Regions from separate parts of the Homo sapiens genome. Here region 1 is linked to region 2. The links come from fine-mapping of genetic effects on gene expression. Tissue or cell type: tibial nerve. Region 2 holds a variant in brackets; the other region holds the start of a gene. All regions are shown on one strand. Distances are between the middles of the regions.

Evidence for each region. PIP is the estimated chance that this variant, and not a neighbour inherited with it, causes the effect.
Region 1: FNDC1-AS1 starts here. The variant in region 2 is fine-mapped to the expression of FNDC1-AS1 in tibial nerve (GTEx, PIP 0.95).

What each region holds. Positions count from the first base shown.
Region 1 is chr6:159,165,019-159,173,018 of GRCh38, forward strand. FNDC1-AS1 (FNDC1 antisense RNA 1) reads right to left here and starts at 4,989. Exons shown (of 4, transcript NR_121668.1): 1 at 4,794-4,989; 2 at 3,515-3,743; 3 at 2,231-2,336; 4 at 881-1,170. FNDC1 (fibronectin type III domain containing 1) reads left to right here and starts at 4,382. Exons shown (of 23, transcript NM_032532.3): 1 at 4,382-4,687. The coding sequence starts at 4,579. RefSeq lists a silencer at 4,261-4,430 and an enhancer at 5,237-5,736.
Region 2 is chr6:159,428,764-159,437,028 of GRCh38, forward strand. No RefSeq gene overlaps it. Among named protein-coding and RNA genes, the nearest start is that of LINC02529, 49 kb to the left of the region's middle. The variant G/A (reference allele first, on the strand shown) is at 4,105.

The sequences.
Region 1 (8,000 bases), 260 kb before region 2:
TGAAAATGGGAGAGAGGGAAGGACCTTCTGAGAGTCACGTGTGGTGGAGAGAGATGTGTACTTGGGGTCAGAGGCTCAGACTGGACTCCCAGGCGCACCAGTTAAAGGGCCAAGCACATGCCACACGCCTTCTTGGAGCCTTGATTTTCTCCTGTAAAATCAGAATAGTGCCCCTAAAGTTGTTGTGAGAATCGGAACGAAATGAGTACTGTTCAAGAAAAGAAGTAAAGCATTATTTTATTATTTTATTTTATTGCCAGCTAGAAGCTATTTCTATCACCCTTCTCCCAGGTCAAGGCGAAACTGAGATGGCAGTGTCGACTTGCCTGCTTCTATTTTCTTTTCCCTTTTCCCTCTGTTCATAGAATCCTGGGGACTGTTGTGTTCCTCCAGATCTGCTGTGTCCGATTTATTGAGCTCCCCACAATCACAGCAAGTGCTGTAGGAGCACACTCTCTTTTGTTCTCCTTCTATGTAGTCTTTTAAAAATATCACTATTGTGTAATGGGTATTGTGTAGTGTCCTGCGGCGATCACAATATGCAGATATATTCAAATGTGGTGCTTAAAAAGGAATTAAAGAGCCACATGAGCCAAATTGAAGACTGAACAAGATTAAATGTCAGATGAATAATATGAGACACGCACTTTCAACGCTCTACTTGAGTCTGTACTGGAAGGTCATTTGAACTTGCTTCCCATTTATCCATATGAAACACGAGAATAGCAATTTAATTTACCCTATCACATAGGAATGCCACGACAATGTGTATGAGGAGTGCTGAACTCCTTGGATGTATAGTTATTTTAAAAATAACTAGAACAGGAAATAGTGTATATGAACACAAGCTGATCTGTAAAGCCAGAAAAGACCACAGAACTAAGGCAGACTAATAAGGCATTGATTTTAATGACTGGCCATCCATCCAGCCCCAGAGCAACCTCCACTCTGTTTGGTTTTGATGAACAAAATAGAAGCAACAATCAAGACATCAGGAAATTACATGAAAAAACATTTAAATCTTAAAATCTTTCACAGGACAACAGTATTGATATTGGACTCAAAACTGACAAGAAGGAAGAAAACTTCCGTGTGCTCATATTTTTGAGATGACCACGTTGAGAACAGATGACTGACTCCGAGTTCCATTTTCTTTAAGATATTTTGAGCCTAAAGGTAATAATACCTTTTGATTAAAACACACACTCTCATATTTGTAATGAAATCAGAATCAGAACTCATAAGTGTCAGTAATTTCATTTAATATCAAACAGCCCATGGTTGAGGGTTCTGAAACTCTAAAATTGGAAGTAATTTTGCATTGTGCTTCACTCTGAAATGTACCCCTAAGAAAGTTGCTCTAATAAGTATTCTGGGGAGGAAGGTAAGTGCACATGCATCTCCTGAGGATGCAGGGAAGGAAACTGATGTCTGTTGAGCTTTCACTGTGTGCATATAGAGATTATGGCATATGATTAGTTCATTACAATGAAACTAAAGAGTGACATCCTGAAATTACAGAAGTCACAATGGAGAGTTAACCAGCAGCATGAGAATAGTGTGACTCGGTATATTGCAAATCCTCTTTTTCTCCACATCCAATGAGTCAGAAAATCTCCCAAACCATACCTTTAAGATGCATCCAGAACCTCACTGGTTCTCGTGCCCCACTGCTGTCCATCATGTCCAAGCACCGTCTTGCCTCACTGGGATTGTAAGAGCCTGCTTACCCGTGTCTCCTCTGATCAGAATTCTCCAGTGTTGCCCTTCACCTCTCAGATTGAAAGCCTAAACCCTTCCTGCAGCCTGTAAAGTCCTCAGTGCTGCCTCCCCTTCTCTGCTTTTAACTTAACTCCTGCTATTCATCTGCTTTCAGTCACTGCTAATCCCCGGGGTCTACAGCAGTGCTGGGGACAGAGTAGATCACAATAAGTATTTGCTGAATGAATGAATGAATGGCAATTAACCTCAGCATTTCCTGGATATTACTGTGTTTGGTTCTGTGATGGCCTCTTTTGGGTGACAGATGAGCAATAAAGATAAGTCTTGGTTCTTGTCCTCTTAAGAACAGGGGGGAGTGCACTAGTCAAGACTCATTGGTTATAGAAAATAGAAATCTCATTCCAAGTTAGCAAAAGGGAATGTGCTGTCCCCAGAACCAGCGTTCAGAAAGCGCAGGGGTGAGGTGGAGCCCGGGACTCTTGCATCTGCCCGGCTCTTTTCTACCCACCTGGCCGCTCTCCATGCGTGGCTTCCTTCTCTCCAGCTGGTGTCCCTGGAGGCTGCAGCCAGAGCCACAGGCCCATCCTGGCTACTGCACTGGTGTTCGGTGGCCGCTGTAAGAAGTAATTACAAACGGGGTGGGTGGCTTAAACAACAGAAATCTGCTCTCTCAGTCTTGGAGGCCAGAAGTCTGAAATCAGTTCCACTGGCCTGAAGTCCAGCACAGGCTCTGGAGGAGCCTCTTCCAGCCTCTGGTGAGGGCTGCCAGCATCCCTGGGCTGTGGGTGCATCGTTCCCATGGCTGCCTCCGTCCTCACCTGGATTTCTCTTGTGTGCGTCAATCTCCCTCTCCTCTGTTTTATAAGTTACATACATGACTGCATTAGGGCCCACCCAGATAATCCACGATAATCTCTCTGTCTCAGCATGCTTAATTGCTTTTTAATAAACCATGTAAGGTGACATTCACAGGGTCAGGGACTAGGACAGGAATGTCTTTTTGGGGAGGAAGGCTGTGTTTCAGCCTGCCATGGCTACCATCCTTCCAAATCCACGAATGATGGGAGAAAGAGACCTTTCCACCAGCCCGTGTTAGAAGAGTCCCAACTCTGAGTGACCCTGTCTAGGCCACTGCAGAGCCCTGAGCCAGTGGGGAAGTGGGGCTTTGGGAAGGAGTGGGAGTAAGGAGGGGGCCTGTCACTTGGTTGGAGTTGGGGAGGGAGCTACCATTCCCCCAAAATAGGCAGAGCCGGGTGGCTGCTGGTGAGACAGAAACCACACAGCTCCATTAAATGGCATGTGGGGAAACATGATAACATAAGGGAGTAATGCAGGAAAGTGTGTTTGGGCTGGGCGTGGTGGCTCACGCCTGTAATCCCAGCACTTTGGGAGGCCAAGGTGGGCGGATTGCTTGAGCTCAGGAGTTGGAGACCAGCCTGGGCAACGTGGGGAAACCCTGTCTCTACAAAACATACAAAAATGAGCTGGGCATGGTGGCTGAAACCTGTAGTCCCAGCCACTTAGGAGGCTGAGGCAGGAGAATGGCTTGAGCCTGGGATATGGTGGTTGCAGTGAGCCAAGACTGCACCACTGCACTCCAGCCTGGGCGGCAGAGGCAGAGGGAGACCCTGTCTCAAAACAAAAAGAAAAAGAAAAACAAACAAACAAAAACCTTTGCTGGGAAGCAGGAGAGTTTCCTGGAAAGGAAGGCGGTAGGTTTACACCTTTCCTGGGTGCTCAAATTCAAAGAGATACTGTATTTCTGGTTTTCATCTCTTTGCAATTCATTTACCTTTTTTTTTTCCTCTCTGCAGAACACAAATCCGGTCAAGTTTTGGGTTGTCATGAGGGAGAACTGACATAGCGCTGGGCGGTGAGTTCAGCCAGGTTATCTCTGCGAGGACACCGGTCGGCGGCGGACAGCAGCACGCGGCGTCCAGGACCCGGCCTTCCTAGAGCTTAGGTCACTGTAGCCTCCAGGGGCGCTCCGAGTCCATCTGGAGGGCCGCGAGGCTTCCAGGCTGGAAGGAGGAATAGGGAGAAGGAGGAATAGGGAGACCTGGGGCAGTGTTACAATTACAGAAAAGGGAGAGGCGAGGTCCGCTGAGTCCTTGGCCTGGGCAACAAGGCACACTGAAAACTGGGTTCCTTTTCGACCCGCATCGTGCGCGCCCTAGAAATGACAGCCAGACGGAGCAGGGTCTAAGGACGCTGAAAACCCCTGACGTGGGCGCGCCGGGTGCGGGTAGGGACGTGGAAGGACTGGGCTAGCCACAGGAACTACAGCGCTGCGGACCGGGTGAGGGGTCCCGGCCCGAGTCCCCACTTGGGGCGCAGAGGTGTTTCTGTAAGGGGACAAAGGGCACTCCTCGGCGCGATGGGCGACTTCCCCAGCCAGAAAATGAGAGGGTTAGACGAGGGGAGGAACTTCCTCAGCCACTTGGCCCGGCACAGCGACCGCCCCAAGTTCAGAACCGCTAAGTCAGTCCGGGGCGCTCCGGCCCCTTCGTCCCGCGCCCCGCCCGCCTCCAGCCCGGGCCCCGCCGCCCCCGTCGCCCCTGTCGCCCGGGTCGCCCCCGCCGGCCCTGGCCCCGGCCCCGCACACCGGCAGGGGGCGCCCGAGCGCAGCTAAAAGGCTCGGCGGGAGGTCGGCGGCCTCAGTGGCGGAGCGCGGCTGCCGGTGTGCGGCCGGGAGCGATCGCCGCGGGGCAGGGGCGCGGCGGGCACCGCGCAGAGCGCGCAGAACAGACGGACGGCGGCGGGGACCCGACGGCGGCGCCTCGGCACTCCCCAGACTCCGGCCAGCGCCCCCCTGCCAGCCGCAAGCACCCAGCCCCGGCCCACCCCGGGCTCTCGATGGCCCCCGAGGCCGGGGCGACCCTGCGCGCGCCGCGCCGGCTGTCCTGGGCGGCGCTGCTGCTCTTGGCCGCGCTGCTCCCCGTCGCCTCCTCGGCGGCGGCCTCAGGTACGCGCCGCGCCCGGGCCCCCGGCGCTCCTCAGCTCCCCGCGCACCCTCCTGCGCTCGGGCCCCGTCGTCCCGCTCAGTGCTGGCTACGGGTCGTGTCACTAGCCTGTGCGTCCTCGTCACTCGCGGGTCGGGGCACTTGGCGCCCTGTGTGGGTGGCGGGAGCGGGGACGCCTCGGTGCCCGGGGACCGCAGCGCGCTGGCGTTTAACTTTGCCGTCGCCCGCCTTGGAGTCGGGAGGCTCCAGCCGTCTAAGTGTCCCGGGAGATTCAGGCACAGCGGGGAAAAAAGGAAAAGAAAGGCGACTTTCAGCGTGCGGACTGGGGTAATGCCTTTCTTTGCCCAGAATTTCTCGGGAGCGTAGGTGGTCATCCTACTTTCTCCGCGTTCACCTCTCGCGAGGCAGGATGACGGGCGCACTCGGGAGACCGGAGGGAGGCAGAGCAGGGCTGTTCTAGAAGGTCGTGGGGGAAAGGCTGCGAGCTGCCGCAGGGCGTCGGGTGCCTCTGCGCTCCAGAGGAGAAGCGCTCCAGTGCCAGCTCGGCTCCAGGCGGCAGGAGGCCCGCGCGCCCGGGGGGAACGTTCAAGCTGGGAGAAAATGTTTGTCTTGAGAGGAGGGAGAGGGAAATGAGAAAGCTGATTCCAGAGAAACTCGCCCTTCCCCAATGGCTGAGGCTGCAGCCAGGATGGATGCTTCCTTTGAGAGCAATGCTTTTCAGAAAATGCTAGCGCGCTCCTGTCAGATTTCTTGCAAGCTTCCTGCAGAGAGAGACAAGTTTGTGGCGAGGTTTTCATTCCTAAGCCTTTGGCGGCCCTTGTTACCACCTCCTTTGCAGGCATTTTTACACTTGAAACTGGCTTTTAGGTTATTGGTTTGTAGAAATCCAAGAAGCAGACAATGATCGTCAGATACTATTCCAACGAGGGTACCAGTTTTATGATGCTATTTAGTGTATATATTGTTCTCTTACTTCAGGGGTAAAGGAAGAAAAGTTGGGGATCACATTACTTTGTGACTTTTTGGTAGATACATCATCCCAATGCTTGGCTCAGGTTTATGCGAGGTATTCTGATGCCAATGCCACTTTCTCATAAAAGGCAGTGCCTGCCGTAGGGTCTTTTTCTTCCCATTAGTGAACTCTAGGAAAGTATTCACTGAATACTTTGCACAGTACTTGAGAGGAATAAAACTAAATAAAGTCTTCCAACTTCCCCACCTACAACTCCTGGCTTTTGTTTTTCTAAGTGAAAATTTTCAGAGTGCTGGAAGAGTTTTTGTTTCTGAAAATGATCTGAAACTGGAACCAGTGCTGCCCTGGCTTTGTGGCGATTCCAGCCTTCTGCTTTTCCGATTCCTCTGCCACCTGCCCGTGGGTTGCATGTGAGTGGGTCCGAGCGGGGTTGTTTGTGAGAGCTCCTGGAATCCCACCGCGATCTGCACTCTTGCTTTTTCGCCTTCTGCTCTGTGAATCACTGTGCTGAGGAATGCTGGGGCTGGACAGCTTCCCAGCCCTTCTCTCTACTGTGTTGACGTGGGATCTACAGTCAAATGATGACCAGACTAGAGGTGGACAAAGGAGGACAGGCACATTTCAGAATGAAATCTACTAAATTTAAATTAAGTAATAGAAGGATAGAAACAGACATAGCAACCTGTAGATAGCTCCCCATGCTGTGGATGAAATTATGGGGTACATAACTTCTTTCATGGGCTCCCTTTGACAGCAACGTCATGGATAGACTGCTCCCTCTCTCTGGTTGAACTAATGCATGGACCAAGCGAGCTGCTTGTGTCAAGCTCTCCCCTTCACCACCCTTTTGGGGCCAGAATCTCTGTAAGGAAATTACCCACGGCCACATAATAGTGGCTCCGAGGGACTTTGCTTAAAGCAGGACACACTGAAGATCTGGATAAGCCCTTCAGTGTAGGGTCAATTAAACATAAAACAAAATAAGCAAGCAGTGTCCCCTCCTCCACTCATATTCATCCCTACAATAGGATACTATGCAAACATTAAAATTATGATGGCCTTGCCAGTCTGGTATGATACATTTTTCTAAACACATGTGGATGTACTCACACATGCACATATTTGCAGTGGGTATCTTAGGATGGTTAGGGATGATTTTTATTTTCTTCTTTAAAGAAGCTTTTAGGGAATTTTCCATGTCAAAACTATTTTCAAAGTAATACTAAGATTACTAAGATGCTATTTTCCTTTTTCACAGTTGACATTTGCACTGAGGGTGCAAAAGCTTGATGGGTAAACTGCGGGTGTCTTACTGAGAATCAAGGCAGGGACATCACCATGCACTAGTAGTCTTTGAATTTTGGGGGGACTTTGCAGTTAAAAAAAATTTGCCAGTTTCATTAAGAATGTTCTTGATGCCACAGTAAAATTATTAATTTTACCAAATCTTTGTATCTTTGAGTGTATGTCTTTTTAATAGTGTAAATAAATGGGAAGGACACATAAGTTACTACTGCTGATGACCAAGTTCAGTGGCAACCCCAGGGGGAAGCACTGGTGTGATTGTTTGTGTTATGCATTAAGCTAGCTGGTTTTTTAAAATGGAATGTGGTATTTACCACAAAGAATGACAACAGACAAACTAGAGCTATTCTGACTTGGGTATTTGGCCGATGTTTTCTCAAAAATGAACAAAGGGAACTTGCTACTTCTAGTAAAATAACTGCTATTATTGCTTGCCAATGATAACATTTCAGCTTTCAAGTGAAAATCAGAATTTTGCCAAGTTGTTTCCACCACTGTAAGCTTGAAAGTTTCCCAATATTTAAATTTTTTTCTAGTGAGATCAATGGTGATATAAATGAATGTGATTTGTAAATGTCATCTCATAAAATGTGTCAACATTTGGATGATCTGCATAACCAAATAAACCAATAGATCCAAATGACCAGTGTATAGCCTTACAACAATCTTGCATGGGTAAAAGGTCTGTTCAAAGTGCATGATAGCCCAATGGATTTTTAATGTAACAAAATATGAAAAATTCTTCATATGATTTCAGATTCTAAGAATTGGCTACTTGATGAATTTTGGTGTAATATCAAAGATTTTTCAAAATTATCCAAAAAGGCTATTGAAATAGTTGTCCAGCTACACATCTGTGTGAGGCTGGGTTTTCTCCAAGCAAAACGACATATTGCAATAGATTGAATGCATAAGCAGATCGGAGATATTCTATTAAAAAGATTTGCCAAAATGTAGAAACAAAGCTGCTCTTCTCACTCATTTCTCTTTGTTTTGGGAAACAGTTACTTTTCATATAAATATATTTGTATGTCAAC
Region 2 (8,265 bases):
TATGCAAAGGTAACATTCATTAAGGTAACAATAACTAACTTTTTTTTTTTAGTATGTGCTGGATATGGACTAAGTGCTTTACATGAATCATTTCATTTAACCCTCAGTAAACTTCAACATACGTTATGCTTCCCATTTTACAGATGTAAAACTGAGACTTGGAGAGGCTTAGGGACTGCCCAAGGTTACACACCTAGCTGGTGATCCACCAATTCCTAATATCATTAACTAAAATTTAGTGATCCAGGTGCTAATCATCTGGTATTATCATTTTTTATGTGAGTAGCACACACCAGTAGTTTGCATAAAACAGAGACAGTAAAATAGGCCAATGTTACAATTTTCTATGAAAGGCACAAAGGTAATATAGCATGAGGCTTCTATCTACCAAAAATTCATAAACCATTTGTTTATGAACAAGACTCACAATTGCAGTAGACCCTTGAACGACACAGAGCTTACAGGCATGCAGTCAAAAATCCATGTACAACTTCTGACTCTGCAAAAACTTTACTAATAGTCTATTGTTGACTGGAAGCCTTACTGATGACAAAAACAGTCAATTCACATGTATTTTGTATGTTATATGTATTACATTCTTTATTCTTACCATAAAGTAAGCCAGAGAAAAGAAAATATTATTAAGAAAATCATAAGGAAGAGAAACTTTATTTACTATTCATTAAGTGGAAAAAAGTGGATCATCATCAAGGACTTCATCTTAGTCTTCTTCATGTTGAGTAGGCTGAGGAAGAGGAGGGGTTGGTCTTGCTGTCTCAAGAGTGGCAGGAAAGATGGAAAAAAATCTGCATATAAGTGGACCCGTGTAGTTCAAACCCATGTTGTTCAAGGGTCAACTGTGATTAAACTGAGTTACAATTCAAGTTAATGTATAATCTTCACTGAACTCATAGCCTATTTTATCAAAGCTAAGAATCTTGTCATAAAAAGACCAACACAAGAAAACACCACCTCTCAATACTCAAATGTTCCTCTTGATGAAGTCACTGTGGCTATTGCACTGAAGTTTCTATCTGAACGTATCAATCTGCAGAATTCTTGGGGGTGGGTGTGGTATGCAGAGAAGAAGCAAGGGCCAGAAGTCAGGGAAGAAACATGAAGAGCGCCTGGCTGGTCCCAACTTCCCTCTGGTCACACTCCCTCACCCTTTGCCGCCTCATCCCTGCTACCTATCCTTGTTGAGGAAGAAGAGATGGGAGAGAAGAGAGTAGAAAGAGAGAAGGAAGTGAAAAGAGTGTTAAAGAAAGACATAAAGAAAATGGAAAGGAACTTCAAAGGGTCTTTGCATTGTTCTGAAGGTGAGAAGGTAAAATTAAACCTCCAAAAGAAAACTTTGCACTGTTAACAACAACAAGTTTTATAATACTTGCTTTCCTTGAAGAAAAGAAAATAGGCAGAGGGAAATGAGTGGATATTTCAAGGAATGTTATATAATGTCATAATGTAATGAGGGTTTGTGTGCTCTATGATGCTATGACAATTTGCAAGATTAATCCATTCAGTCTCCCATTTTTCCAGGCAGGGATTCTCATCAGGAATTCTCATCAGGGATCTGTTGAACTTAGAGGAATCTAGAAACCTGAAAGTTTTGCAAATTATTAGTTTCCGTAATTTTTCTGGGGAATGGTTCTGAAGCTTCCAGCAGCATCTCAATGGCATTTCCCAATTCTGCAAAGATTAAGAACTGCAGATTAAGGCAGATAGATTCCAGAAACTTTCGCTTTAAAGTTCTGACTTGGCAGGCAATTGGGAATCTTTCCACAGAGTGCTTTCCTCAAAAGGATAAAATAGTGACTTTATCAGACTTTCCAGTAGCCCCAATATTGCATCAAGCCCTTTCCAGGCAAGAATCCATATCCTCTTATCATTTCTCTTATGATCGGGTTTAAAGTTTTCTCACCCTCCACCAGTTGCTTCTAAGTATGCCCTGACCTGTCAATTTCTCCTTAATGCATGGCACCATAAAGTGAGCACTGCAATCCAGGATGAGTCGACCCATGAGGAAGCAGGCACTGCCCACCTTATTTTGAACACTTTGTTTCTGTTATAAAACCAAAGATCCCAAGAAGTTTTTTGAAAGATGCGTAATCCTTTTGTCTGGCAGGGATTTTTGACAAGTAAATTTCCTAAATCTTTCCTCATGTGTTACCTCTGAACTCAGTCACTTTCGACTTATCTCATATGTATACACTTGAGTGTTAGAAGACTAAAGAGCAGGATTTTATATTTATCTCTTTTAAATTTTATCTTGTCTAATTCAGTAAATGTTTAGCAAAGTGCATCAAAGTATTCTGGAAGCTCAATTTCTCATCCAACGTTAATAGTTGTCCCTCCCAGCCTCGTGCCACTCATGGGTTTATTTATCATGATCTCAAAGGCCTATCCAAGTCTCTGGTTTCCATATGGACAGGAGCAGGAGACCAAAGACTAGCAGCTCCTCCTATCTGATGCTGATTTAGGTTGATCAATGAATCAATGCTCTTTAGCTTTAAAGCATTCAACCAATTGTCAATTCAGCAGATTAAAATGAAATTCAGCCCATATTTCTCCATCTTGGCAATTTGAATATCAGGCAATTTTTTAAGAAACTTGCTGAAACCTAGATACTCTTCTTATGCATAGCATTCTTAGATATTTTCCACTCTACCTCATGACAACTATTGCAGAGAGACAGATTTTGGCTTAACAAAGCTGCTTGGGGCTGGAATACACCTGCTTCAGGTGGTGAGGTCTGTCATTGAAGGTTGAAAACATCTGGCTGGAATAAAATAGGAAATAAATAGGAATAAAATAGGAAAGATTTGGGTATCAAACAAGAGATTGAATTCTGTATCTGTATAGTGACTTGAGACTCTGAACATTTTTGACTATAAATGATGCTTCATGGGTGTTGAGTAAGTCAAATGGTAGCTTCGGGTAAGATTTGATTCAAGGATCAATGATGTCATCATGATCCCTTTCTGTTCTTCTTTTGTGTGCCAGAGTGGTTCTCAGGCTGTCTCCCCTTACTGTAGTCAGTTGGCTACAGCACCTTACTGAGCCCAGAGGAGAGGAGAATGTCTATAGTCTAGCATGCCTTGCAAACATATTAAGACTTGCACTGATTTAGACTGGATTAGGTCATGTGTCTATCCTGCAACAATCACTGTGGCCACAGAGATGAGACATGCTGTTCTGGTTATCTATTGCAACATAACAAATCACTTATCTCCCATGGTTTCTGTGGGTTAGGAATTTGAGTAAGCTCAGCTAGGTGACTTTTCCTGGGGCCCCTCATGGATTTGCAGTCAGATGGTGGTTGGGGCTAGAACAGTGGTGGGGAAGAGGAGTCGATGGTGCTAGGAGCTACCTGGCCATCTTTTTTTCCTTAAGGCAGTCTTGAGGCCTCTCTATGTGGTCTCTCCAATTGTGCCAGTTTGGGCTTCCCCACAATATGGAGGCCTCCGGGCCATGAGACTGCTTGCATACAGTGTCCCAGGAGAATAAGGTGTAAGTTTTTGGCATTTCTGTGGTCTAAACTCAGAAATCACATAATGTCTCTTCTGCCCTACTCTATTGGTTGAAACAGTCACAAAAACCCACCCATATTCAAAGGTAGGGTACATAGACTCTATCTCTTGATGGAAGAGGGGCAAGATTCTAGAAGAAACTTCTAGAAGAACAGTCATCCTTGGAAAATATAATCTTTCACATATGCTAATGGGCTTAATCCAATCAAAACGTGGCCCTAAGCTAAAAGCCCAAAAACAATATCCCAAAGTAAGCCTGGTTGATTGGGCATGGTGGCTCACACCTGTAATCCCAGCATTTTGGGAGGCTGAGGCAGGAGGATCGCTTGAGCCCAGGAGTTCAGGACTAGCCTGGGCAATATACTGAGACCCCATCTTTTTAAAAATTTTTAAAAAATATATCAAAGTAATCCAGGCTGTTATAGATGGGAGAAGAGGGGTGTAGATGGCAGAGAACAATCCCTCCTTCTATGTGAATGGGGACCAAAGCACAGGTGCAGAGGGATGAGGTCACTGTATTCTACCTACTTTAATTTTTTAATACAGATTTCTAAAACTACTTTATCATATGACA[G/A]ATTTTGCCAAGAACTTATATTTACAACCAAAACTAAACACAACAGTGTTTGATTTTTTAAAAAGAAAACATTAAGTTACACATCATTAACTTAGATCTGCCAATGGAGAATCCATCTTGATGCATTAGGCTGAGTTTTCTTTGTGCTGGTTATAAACCGATTAATGGTATTAACAAAGGTGGGGGATCAAGGAACTATTTTAAGGGGATGAACAACTAGCTTTAATGTTGCTGAAGAGAAAAGGTGCTAATTATAAATATTTCTGAGAATCTGTTCATTAAACACTTTTGAGATTACAAAAGTTATTTCTTGTCTGCATTCTGTTATAAAAGTTTTAAATTCAAGTAAGAATTCAGTAAATACAGATAAAATGTGTACAGAATAAGGCTTATTTCTTTAAAAATAGTCAATAAATCAATATTTTTGTGGTTTTGTCAAAGTGACATTGACTTACTCCTAATTAGGATCAGGCTTTATATATTGTTTTTAATTGGGAGAAATATGTACCAAAATAAATATGAGATTTATTATTATAAATTCATATTTAAAAGGTAAAAAACTGCTGTGTGTCTGTGGCATTGCTGTTTTAAAGATTTCCTTGCATCCCCCCAAGAATGGCAGATAGTGTAATTACAGTATTCCTGCTGTGAACTTTTCTTTGTTTTCTAAATACAGTAAGTGTATCCGAAAACTTATTAAAATGAAATCCCCCTACCCTCTCACTCTTCGTGACTGTCAGCTTCCGATAAGCCCATACTGATGGTACTGATGGCGGCCAATTGCCCCTTGGCATTTGCTTTATTATAATTGCCCAATGGGTTCATCCTGCCTGCTGCACAGATAAAACCAATCTTCTGAGACAGCAGTATTACAGTAGAGAAAGAGTTTAATTATCACAGGACTAGCCAAGTGGCAAATGGGAGTTTATGACTCAAATCAGTCTCCCTGAGAATTCAGAGGCTAGGGTTTCTCAAGGCAGGGGACTAGGGAATGGGGAATGCTGATTGGTTGGGTTAGGGATAAAATCATAGCTGTCTTCTTACACTCTGTCAGTTCCTGGGTGGGATTGCAAGGTCAGATGAGCCAGTTTCATGGTATGGGGTACCAGTCCAGGTGGCACCAGCTTGTTCATTGGAATGCAGTCTGAAAAATACCTCAAGTACCAATCTTAGATTTTGCAATGGTGATGTCACCTATAGGAGCAAATGGGGAAGTTACAAAGCTTGTGACCTCTGGCTACAAGGCTCCTGAACCATAATTCTAATCTTGTGGCTAATTTGTTAGTCTTGCAAAGACATATTTGGTCCCTGAGCCAGGACGTAGTTAGTTTCAAGAAGAGACTGTTATCATCTTTGCTTTAAAGTTAAACTAAATTCCTCCCACAGTTGGCTTGGCCTATGCCCAGAAACAAACAAGGACAGCTTGGAGGTTAGAAGCAAGGTGGAGTCAGGTCGGATTTCTTTCATTGTCATAATTTTTCTATGTCAGATTTTTCTCACTGTCATAGTCTTTGCAAAAGCAGTTTCATTGAACTCCATTCTGCTCATGGAACAGTAGCTGCCAAGACTGGAGCTGGGGTGTTAAATGCGTGGAAAGACACTCAGCCTATGCCTCCCTCTACCCGCCAACACCCACAGCCTGCCTGTCAACAGCCCCATGCTCAATCATCCTAGGAATCTGCTCTACTGCTCTACTGTTTGGCGGTGGCTCTAGATTACTGAAGCTTTCTTCTCTCAAATGCTTGCTGTGCCAACAGTGTGTTTAACAAGGAACAGCTAAGACATTGAGTGTTCAAACAATGGTCAATTGTTGGGTCTGTATGAATTCAAGCAGCAGACTTGCCTGATTGCTTCATTTTTCTTTTTACCAGTTTGACTAACACCGCCTATTATTTTAACATTAGGTAGACTTTTTTAGTCACAAAAACCTACTCTCCATTTTTTAATGCCTTGCTAGATATACTTATTGTTGAATGTATGGTTTCTCTGCCTGTTAGCAGTGTTTTACCAGCTTTTGCCAACACAGCTTGTGCCCTATCTGCAGAGGACAAAGAAATGCAGAGGCCTAGAGAACAAGTCCATGCTCTCCCGTTCCCTGTTCAATGTCACAAGAGAGGCGCTCCCACACACCCTGTTGCACTGGAATGGACACAGAACCCTCAAGCTGTCAACAGTGACTTCCCACCCTGGGACCCCCTTCCCTCTCCCCTCTTCTGGCCTCCCCAGTCACTTCCAAGTTCCCATTTCTTCCACTTCTTCCAAATAATGCCTGCCCATCTTCACAGTGAGCACCTGGACACCACACTCACCTTCTCACCAGAAGTGCGAGTATCTCAGAGAGCGTTTCAAGGCAAGCCAAGGGGCAGAGCAACAGTGACTCTGGTGGCTAGTCCAAAGGCAGTGGAAAGTGGCCACTTCCCTGGGAGCCATAAGAAGGACCTTACAGTCTCACTTGGGCCCCATGAAGCTCTGGAGTATCATTCAAGGACTCCACATTTAGATTCTCCAAATGGCCAGAAATGTGCTGATTAACAGTTCACGAGGAACCACGTGGGTGCCGTAGGGTGCTGAAGGTTGCATGGCTGCGAGAAGATGTTCAAATATACCTGATAGGTGCTTCCTGCCCCATCCCACAGTATTAACCACGTGTTTCTGAAATTTTGACACCTAGATCCTCACTGACACTGGAGGGACTGCTCCCCCCAGGGCTAGTCAAGTCCTAGAGACAGCAAATGACTCCCCCATGAGTGTGCCCTTCATGTGCAAACCACACAGTCCAGAGCCCACATGCAGACCCTGTCTCCTCTAGCAGGCTCTGCCATGCTGGGCCTCTATTCCCCTGCCGTAATCACCCCAGGGCCAGGTGCCAGACAACTGGAAACAGCCCCTATGCCCCAGACCCAACAGAAATTATTCACACTAGCCGGTCCTAAGCCTGCTCATCCTATCTCCCCAGTTTCTTCCCTCGGAAACCTCGGCCGAGGCTCTTGCCTGTGTTTCCTCTAGCTTCTCTGCCACCTGCCCAACCCTGGTGCTTCCGCATGGGGCCCTGAGCATCATAGTGTGACCCTCCTCTCGGGAACTGAGTGACAATGGCAATCGTCTCATCTGTTGGCTTCACCGCACCTGAAAACCTACAATTTACACCACCAACCCCACTTTCTGCCAGAAAAATCTGTCCTAACCAGCTCCTCTGGCTGGGTTTATACATATTCTTATCACAGCTGCCAAGATCATGGTCACCAACAGGTCTTATCTGTGCAAAGGGGATAATGATAGAGCGAGGATGGTATGAAGAGCACGCTAGGCACACGCAGTGAGCTCTCAGCCCGGGTCTGGCGCTGGGAGGTGCTTGGTGCATCTCAGCTCTGATTACGATGATGACAAACTGTGCACCTCAAGGCCTCCAGGTCACCTCTGAGTGCCAGACACTTCCCATTCCAGCCCCTGTGCATTATCCTGAGCAATGCTTGTCTGCCTGTTAACACCAGCTCTGCAGATGAGAAGCCTCTCAAAACCCTTCCCCTGCACACCTCAGCAGGAGCAGCTGCTGCAGCGACACTGGGAACCCTCGAGTCTGAAGCCGGTGGGGAAGGGGCTCAGAATCTGCTTACCTGAGAGCTCAGGGAGCCTCCAGAGAGATGATTCACCTCACCTGGAGAGAGACAGCCAGAAAGGGCTGCTTACCCAGCAGCCGCTCCTCTGCCGTGCAGGAGAAACAGCAATTCTTTCCCTTAGATTTGTCTCTGGCCCAGAACCACCTCCATCTGATTCCTGAGGAGAGACGGAGGTGGGAACGGGGGTTTAGGGGTTATGGTTGAAGCTGAATGAGCTTCTTTCTCTTAAAACTCCAAACATCAACATTCAAGGCAGTACAGCTGACGGAACACAAAAGAACATCAACAAATATTGGACTCCAGTTAATGACATGTGTGGGAACAAAGGCACTGATGTTTGCAGCTGACTTTGAAAAGTCTAAAAACAATAAGCTGGATGGATGGGTAGCTGCACAGATATGTGGAAAGGAAAGAGAGCTGACGGCCAACAGCTGCGATGTATCTAGATGTGGCTATGTGAACCACCGTATAATTCTTTACATTCTTCTGTATGTGTAAAATATTGGGGACAAAAGGGACCAGAGACATCTTCCTTCTTCAGCAT